Linked DNA regions of Homo sapiens: region 2 is linked to region 1. Evidence: fine-mapped expression QTL. A gene starts in region 1. The other region holds a variant in brackets. All regions are shown on one strand. Distances are from middle to middle.

Region 1 (4,391 bases):
CTGGAAGCCCCCTTCCCGCTTCAAGTTGTCCCGCCTTTCCGAACCCAACCAGTGTTCATTTTACATATATTGATTGATGTCTTATATGTCCCTAAAACGCATAAAACCAAGCTGTGCTCTGACCACCTTGGGCACATGTTGTCAGGACCTCCTGAGGCTGTGTCACTGCGTGCGCATCCTCAACCTTGGCAAAATAAACTTTCTAAATTAACTGATACCTGTCTCAAATTTTTGGGGTTCACAAGGTTTAGTTATAAATGCTTCTTATGGAGCATGATTTTCTTACAAGCGAGGCAGGAGAATCGGATCTGGAGGCAGGGAACCTAGGGCTGTTTCACGCTGACTTCCTAGAACTAAATTGAAAGTAAAACCCTAACTTCCCACACCAAGTAACAAAAGAACCAGAGGCTTCTCCCTTTCCAAACCCCCACCTTTTCTGTGTGGCAGATGGGAAATTGAAAGTACCTCTGATTGGTTGCAAAAAGCAAAATTACGCTAAGAAGTAAGTTATCCCTTAAAAAAAATTATTCTTTCTGCAACCAATCAGATCTTCCCATAGGAGTGTAACTATGTAACTTCACCATCTGATTGCACGCCACGTCTTCGTTTGCATATAAGGGCAACTTTGTAACTTCACTTTAGCCTTTCATTGGTTGCTTTTCACAGCCAATTGTGGGTCACCACTTCATTTACATGAGATGAGTACCAAGTGGCCAATAGGAGACTTCAATGGGGTATTAGGGCCCCTGAGCTGCTGCTCCACACCCCAAACACAGGAGTGTCCTTTCATTTTCAGTAAATCCCTGCTTTTGGCGGGGCATGGTGGCTCATGCCTGTAATCCCAGCACTTCGGGAGGCCAAGGCAGGTGGATCACCTGAGGTCAGCAGTTTGAGACCAGCCTGACCAACATGATGAAACCCTGTCTCTAATAAAAATAAAGAATTAGCCAGGCTTGGTGGCGCATGCCTGTAATCATCCCAGCTACTTGGAAGGCTGAGGCATGAGAATCACTTGAACCCAGGAGGCGGAGGTTGCAGTGAGCCGAGATCGTGTCACTGCACTCCCGCATGGGCAACAGAGCAAGACTCCATCTCAAAACAACAACAACAACAAACACCTTCAAGGTCTGGCGTGGCGGCTCACACCAGTAATCCCAGCACTTTGGGAGGCGGAGGCAGGCGTTTCACCTGAGGTCGGGAGTTCGAGAGCAGCCTGACCAACATGGAGAAACCCTGTCTCTACTAAAAGTACAATATTAGCTGGGCATGGTGGCGCATGCCTGTAATCCCAGCCACTCGGGAGGCTGAGTGAGGCAGGAGAATTGTTTGAACCAGGGAGGTGGAGGTTGCAGTGAGCCGAGATCGCGCCATTGCACTCCAGCCTAGGCAACAAGGGCGAAACCTCATCCTAAAAAAACAAAAACAAACAAACACCTTCGGGCTTTGTGAGTGCTGGTCTCAGAAAAGCACTCAGTCTTCCTCCAAGGGCTAACTTACTTCTTCAGGAGTTGGGTGCCTTTGAGAAATTTCCCAAACCACTACAGAGGAACAACTTCTCCCTTCGTTCACCACTCTACCAAGCACTTGGCTTTTGTACCTTATTGCAATTATTTATCTTCTAATCTTCTAGAGCCTAGAGAATTAGACTGTAATGTGCCTTAAATGCAGAGGTTTCTCTTACTCTTCTCTGGAGCAATGCAGACGTTTGTTGGTTGAAGGATCAAACTCCAAAGTCCCTCCCAGCCTTGGAACTGTCTCCACGAGTCATAACCATACTTATCTATGTTTAGATAGAGAACTTACGCGTTCGACCCAGCATATTTAGGGGCTCCATTAAAGTAATAATCATTATTACTAAGGTGAATTTACAGGCGTACTAGAACACAACCTAACAAGAGATAATTATTCAAAGCTCACAACGGCACCAAGCACGGTGCTTTCTTTTCCTTCATTAGAAGCCACGGCTTCTCCCCTACCTTTCCCATACCTTTCCCAAAACTCTCTCAAAATTGCGAGCCTTGGTCATGGCCTTTATCACCTCCCGCAGAGACTGAGTCATGCTGGTCATCGTGGACGGTTTTCCAGCCTTTGGGCTTTGCGCAAGAACGAACTTCGGAAGAGCTGGAAAGTCCAGAAGTTAGTGAAAGAAGGAGGACACAAAGGGCGAAGAGCCCGCACCCTTCTCCGCCCCTAGGAGCGCAAGAGGCCGGGAGTCAGGCGAGCTGGCAGCCCCGGTGGTCCGCGATTTGCTCACTGACTTTCCTCGCACCCTTGTGACGAAGCGCGCATGCGCGCTTCGCACCCACCGCCCCGGCGGCTCCCTTGCGGCGCAGCTGCACCAGTTTTCCGAGAGCAGCGCATTTCCCCGCCGGGCGGTTGATGCGGGAGCGCCATGACACAGGCGCCTGCGCAGAGCCGCGCGTTGGCCTCCTGTTCCGCTTAAAGGGGCGGTGCAGAGGCGGCAGGAAGATGGAGTTGGGGAGTTGCCTGGAGGGCGGGAGGGAGGCGGCGGAGGAAGAGGGCGAGCCTGAGGTGAAAAAGCGGCGACTTCTGTGTGTGGAGTTTGCCTCGGTCGCAAGCTGCGATGCCGCAGTGGCTCAGTGCTTCCTGGCCGAGAACGACTGGGAGATGGAAGTACGCTTTCGCTGTCCTCGCTTCCGGCTCCATTACCTAGGTCGGTGGAGCGCACAAACCTCATCCCTTGTGCCTTTGTTTTTCAGAGGGCTCTGAACTCCTACTTCGAGCCTCCGGTGGAGGAGAGCGCCTTGGAACGCCGACCTGAAACCATCTCTGAGCCCAAGACCTAGTAAGTGATGAGGGGAGCGGGAGCCAGTCCGCACGGAGGCAGTTTGATACCAGGTAGCCCTGCGCGTCCTGGGACCTGCCGTGGAGCTGGGCGGACGATGCTGAGGCAGATCTCCAAGCTGCGTAGCCAGAGGAGCAGGGCTTGCGTTGCTGCTGCTGCGCGGAGTTGCGCCCCAGCAGCGGATCTAACACTGCACCAGACTGTCGCTTCGAACGTGATTTGGGGTCCAGGGAGGAAAAGATGGAAATGTAATGTTTAACTCAAATGAAAGGAAATAAGTAAGCGAGAGGTTTGAAACAAATGAACGAAGGCTAAACCTTCTATCGAAAAATGGCAACTTGGAAGTCTCCTTGCTTCCTGTATTGTTTATTTATTCTAGGCCCTAGGCTGACCGGCCAGAATAACAGGTTTGTTGTTGTTGTTATTTTTTTTTAATGCACACCTACTCCTGTTATTTCAGTGCCCCTCTCCAGTTCCTGCACTTAAAAAGTGTAGCTGCCTTACAAGGCCCTCTACTATTTGGCTCCATAACTTAGAACCTGCCTTTCCAGGTTCCAGGCCTATCAAACTTTTACTTTTTTCCAACGGGTCATTTTCTCCTGTCTTTGAAACTTCGTAAAGATCTTTATTACCTGTGCCTGGAATTTTTTTCTTTTCCCTTCCTTGCTAATATTTGTCTTAAAGCCCCAAGCTGAGACATGATTTATCTCTAGGAAGCTTTTCCTGATGTCCTAAGTCTGGGTAAGAGTCCCCTTTTAGGTACTCTTATAGCATCCTGCATGACCCCTGTTACAATACCTTAGTCCGTATTATAATTGCTGTTCATTATTTTATGTCTCCTACTAGACTGCACATCTAGTAAGGAGTATCTGTTTTGTACATTGTTAATTTCCCAAAGTCTGACACAACATTTGACACATAATAAGCTCCCAATAAATATTTACTGAATGTATAAAATTCTCCCAGCTATATGTACAACCTGTAAAATTGACTGTTCATAGTGGAGACTTTATTTTCCCTTTGGTCTTTTCAGCTACACTGGCTTACAGATGTGATAAGATATTTTCTTTAGGTTCCTTTCTCTGTCTTGCCTCTTGTTGGGGAATTGTTTACTCACCCACAGTGATTTGTCTCTGGCTCCCGTTTTACTAACCAGAGCAAGTTGGACTAGGAGGTGTTTGCCTAGCTCAAACTGGCCAGTCAGATCCTCTCCTTGGTTTCAGAATTAGGACCAAGAGAGTCAAGTCTGAGTCTTCCTATGGAGCTGGAACTGTAACATGTTAACTTAGCACCTGTGAGGATTCATACATATCTTTTTTTGTGTACAGAGAAGCTGAGAACAGAGGTCTGCAGAGAGACAATGAAGCAGAGGGAAGTTGAAGTGTAGGATTGAGAGAAAGCCCTTAACTGCCCTTCCTTAAACATGGCTGTATTTCTGTACCAGGCTCTGTGACATGTTTGTTTCCTTATAAATTCTCCTGTTTTGGTCAAACCAACCTGAGTTAATGTCTGTTGGTTGCAACAGACTATATTGTAACCAATAAATAGTAACAAAATAAGTGGATTTCCTGTAATAGGCCCTCAG
Region 2 (4,391 bases), 38 kb after region 1:
AAGAATTGAATTTAGGGAGAAATAAAAGTGCTGAGCCATTTGAAAGCTAAGTTGTTTCCATAATTAGGGAGAATATTTAAAGCCACATGGTGTACACTCAAGGTTTCACCTTCTAAAATTGTTTTTCCTAATGTAGGGACAGTGTTTCCAGGAGTAAAAAACTGTGGTGTTATGTTGTAATACAAGGGCTGTAAGACAGTGCATTAATCTAAGACTGTGGAAAAGATGGTAAAATTTACCATAGCAATTGGTGCATATTTGTTTCTTACCATTTCTTTCTCCCAACGTATACTCCTTCACTACATGCCACCTATTGCTCCTTTCAATTGTTCTCTTATCTGTTTTATCAAGTTGACCCTCCCAATGAGTGGGAAATCCCCTCCTTCCTTTCTAGCACTGTTTCTGTGACTCCTGGAGAGGTGCTCAGGAGGTAGACCCATGGCCTGCATTCACCGCTGAAGCTGAAGGCTGCCTTGGCGAAGACAGGTTTTGTCAAAGTAGTGGCTGATACGGCAAGGAAAGAGGAATCATAAAAGAGGAGAACTTCCCTAGCTGCCCCACTGGCTAAATTGAACTAGGAATATATTATGGCTGCATCTTTTGTGAGTTCACTGGCTCTAAAAAGCAGGGCTTTGCCAGCTTAGTTTCCTCACTCAGTAAACCATAAATGGGACAACCTATAAATACAGCTCGTTCTTAACAGCCTGTAGGACAATGCTATGCAGACAATCTGTTTGGATCTCTGAAAGAGGCCCTCTTTGGGCTGTTTCCATTCCCTTCAGATACAAAAGCTGCAGCTTGCCCTTTTCTGAGCCTGCAGAAGCATTTCACTCCAGCATTATTTATAAACATCCCAAGTTGGAAACAAAGAAATGATGAAGTAAATTGTAATAATCAATGGAATGTTGCAAACAAATTATAAAAAATATAACAATGAAGGATAATTTTTGTGATAAAATATTGAATGAAAGTATTATACAACTCTAAGATGATAGCTGTACTAAAGTTTGTGTGTATATGTGTATATATATATATATATATACACATATACACACAATTGAATAAATGGAACGAGAATCTAAAAGAAGAAAAGCAGCCATTTGTTGGCACGATTTATAATTTTTTTCTAGGAATGTACAATTTATAATGACTAATTTTTTAATGTAATTTTTTTCTTTTTTCTTTCGTTCTTTCTTTTTTTTTTTTTTTTTTTTTTTGAGACAGAATCTTGCTCTGTCACCCAGACTGGAGTACAGTGGTGCAATCTCAGCTCACTGCAACCTCCGCCTCCCGGGTTCAAGCAATTCTCCTGCCTCAGCCTCCCAAGTAGCTGGGATTACAGGCGCATGTCACCATACCTGGCTAATTTTTTTATTTTTAATAGAGAAAGGGTTTCACCATATTGGCCAGACTGGCCTCGAACTCCTGACCTTAAGTGATCTGCCCACCTCAGCCTCCCAAAGTGCTGGGATTACAGGTGTGAGCCACTGCACCCAGCAATTTTTTTAATGTAAGTTTTTGTCACGCTATTATTATTTTTATTTTTTTAGACAGAGTCTCACTCTGTCACCCAGGCTAGAGTGCAGTGGTACAATCTCTTCTCACGGCAACCTCCACCTCCCAGGTTCAAGCAATTCTCCTGCTTCAGCCTCCCGAGTAGCTGGGATCACAGGCATGCGCCACCATGCCCGGCTAATTTTTGTATTTTTAGTAGAGATGGGGTTTCGGCATGTTGGCCAGGCTGGTCCTGACCTCAGGTGAGCCTCCCACCTCAGCCTCCTAAAGTATTGAGATTACAGGCATGAGCCACCAGGCCCGGCCTTGTCATGCTATTTAAAGAA[G/A]GATTTATTTCATTCACTCAGCCTCCATTCAGACAGTGTGCTAGAGCCCAGGCAGAGAGATGCAGCCAATAAAAGCACATTTCTCCTGGGGTGTACCTCTCCAAGGTTCTGTAACATATAATTTTGAAAATCACACTAATCTCCTTCATTAAAAATTTTATCTCAGATCTAAAGCAGCAGCCACGGGGACAGCAACGTTTCAGTCACAAGGTTTGTTTCATAACTCATTTTGTCTTTTTATTTTTAAAAAAGGTAGCAGCCATGAGAAAGCCTTACCATTCCACACCCATCACTTTTAGCTGTACAGTACCTTATGCTGGGATAAGTGTTTCATGTATTCTGAGTTTTCTTTCTTTTTTTTTTTTTTTTTGAGACAGAGTCTCACTCTGTTGCCCAGGCTGGAGTGCAGTGGCACGATCTCGGCTCATTGCAAGCTCTGCTTCCCGGGTTCATGCCATTCTCCTGCCTCAGCCTCCCAAGTAGCTGGGACTGCAGGCGCCTGCCACCGCACCTGGCTAATTTTTTGTATTTTTAGTAGAGATGGGGTTTCACCGTGTTAGCCAGGATGGTCTCAATCTCCTGACCTCGTGATCCTCCCTCCTTGGCATCCCAAAGTGCTGGGGTTACAGGCGTGAGCCACCACGCTGGACTGTCATTGATTCCATCATTGGCTGACTTCCTTTGGTCAGAGATGAAAGAAAACCCCTAGTGTGTAAAGGCTCGAGTTGTTATTTTGTCTCACTATAAGGTAGATGGCGTTTTTCACCTTAAACTTAGAAAATACTGTCTGCTCTAGGTACTTCATGCAGTCGCTAATGGGACAGGACAGGCAAATTTCAGGAAGCTTTTCTTTTGAAAAGTACAAACAATGGTGTTATGGGTTGCGTGGTGTCCCCACAAAAGATGCTTTCAGTCCTAACCCCCAATACCTGTGAATGTGACCTTACGTAAAAATAAGGTTTCTGCGGATGGTATCAAGAAGAGGTTATGAGAGGGCCCTTTATCCACTGCGACTGGTGCCCTTATAAGAGGAAAATTTTGACCCAGAGGCACACAAGGAGAGCTCCATGTGACAATAGAGGGACAGATTGGAGGGATGCAGCTGCAAGCAAAGGAACGCCGAGGATTGACGGCCACCATCAGAAGCTAGGAAGGGACAAAGAAGGATTCTGATCAGACTCTCAGAGGGACATGGCCCAGCTGATGCGTTGATTTCCAACTTCCAGCTTCCAGAACTGTGGGAGACTACAAAACATTTCTGTTGTTTTCCGGTGCTTAGTTTGCTGTACTTTGTTACAGTAGCCCTAGGAAACTAATTCAGATGGTAAATGCAAGGGTTGTATTAAAAAAAAAAAAGAAAGAAAGAAAAAAGCACTGCAGTGAGAACCTGATGGGGGAACGGAAATGGACAGGTGTTCTGGACCTGGTCAGATCTTTTAAAAACCCACAGGGCAGTTGCACTTTAAAACTTACAAGTGTGTCTCATGAATTCTTTCAGAATCAAATGTGACATATTAAAATAAAAACACTTTAAAGAGAACTTACAGGCTAGAAAACAGAAAAACATAAGGTTCCTTAGAAAAATTATTGAACGGAAAGCAAAAAAATTCTTAAAAAGGTGGGAAAATTACAATACCTGACATTTCTAACCAGTACTTACTCTAAAACAAGGTCTATAAAAGCAACAGTCCACAAATTTACTTATTTAGGAAGTTTAGATTTTTAAAAATATGGTGATTTAGGAAGCTAAATGCCATTATAGGATGTTTTTATTGCCCATGTTCTGTAATTATTAGGACATGCTTTCCAGCACTACGTGTGCTTGAAATAATATAAAACCTGGAAGCAATGATGAATAATGTCTAACTTTTCATTAGCACAATTACTCAGTTCATTTTGCCCTAGAATAAGCAGTATTTGGAAGGAGGCTCCTACATTCAGGACATGTCTTCAGCATTCTTCTGGTGAACATTTATGCTGTTATTTGAGTAGTTTAATAATTTTTGAATAGTGACTATAAATGATGCACACAAATATTCCTCTTCTAGATTGTCTTCTGTGGATTAATTAACAGTTCATTAGATAATTATCTGTACTTTTAAGACCATAATGTTAGTCCCTGAACTGAAACCAGTAAGAAGATTGCTGGAAGTCCTGGCCTCTTTTCCCATTTACGGAGTAGGAAAGGTTACTTTGGTGCTTGAGGTAAATTCCAGTTTTCAGGCTACACATCGTGTTCATTTCTTTATTCTGCTAGGGCCACAGCTCATGACCTAGGTAGGCCCTTGCTGTGAATTCCTCACTGTATCATTTGTTCCCTAATTCTGACCTCTGTTTATCAGACCATAATCATGTCTTTCAGAAGAAAACAAGGAAGGAAGGGAGAGAGGAAAGGAGGGAAGGAGGGAGGAAAAAAAGGAAAGAAGGAAGGGAGGGAGGGAAAATGCTCACTAAGACCTAATCACCTTCCCTCCCAATTCATTCTTTCCATGGCTATGACTGAGCACTAAGTCCTCAGCAGAAATTTTGACCAGGAGGTTATCAGGTAGC

What was found. PIP is the estimated chance that this variant, and not a neighbour inherited with it, causes the effect.
Region 2: its variant is the best candidate, but not a certain one, in a credible set for the expression of TDP2 in whole blood (TOPMed, PIP 0.82).

Annotation. Positions count from the first base shown.
Region 1 is chr6:24,664,941-24,669,331 of GRCh38, reverse strand. TDP2 (tyrosyl-DNA phosphodiesterase 2) reads left to right here and starts at 2,433. Exons shown (of 7, transcript NM_016614.3): 1 at 2,433-2,634; 2 at 2,721-2,806. The coding sequence starts at 2,470. It overlaps ACOT13 (acyl-CoA thioesterase 13), which reads right to left and starts at 2,255. Exons shown (of 3, transcript NM_018473.4): 1 at 1,988-2,255. The coding sequence starts at 2,068. LOC124901279 (a long non-coding RNA gene) reads left to right here. Exons shown (of 2, transcript XR_007059509.1): 2 at 1-215. RefSeq lists enhancers at 2,217-2,511, 2,043-2,714, 2,715-3,387.
Region 2 is chr6:24,627,335-24,631,725 of GRCh38, reverse strand. All of the region lies in intron 1 of KIAA0319, which reads left to right. Among named protein-coding and RNA genes, the nearest start is that of KIAA0319, 17 kb to the left of the region's middle. The variant G/A (reference allele first, on the strand shown) is at 1,842.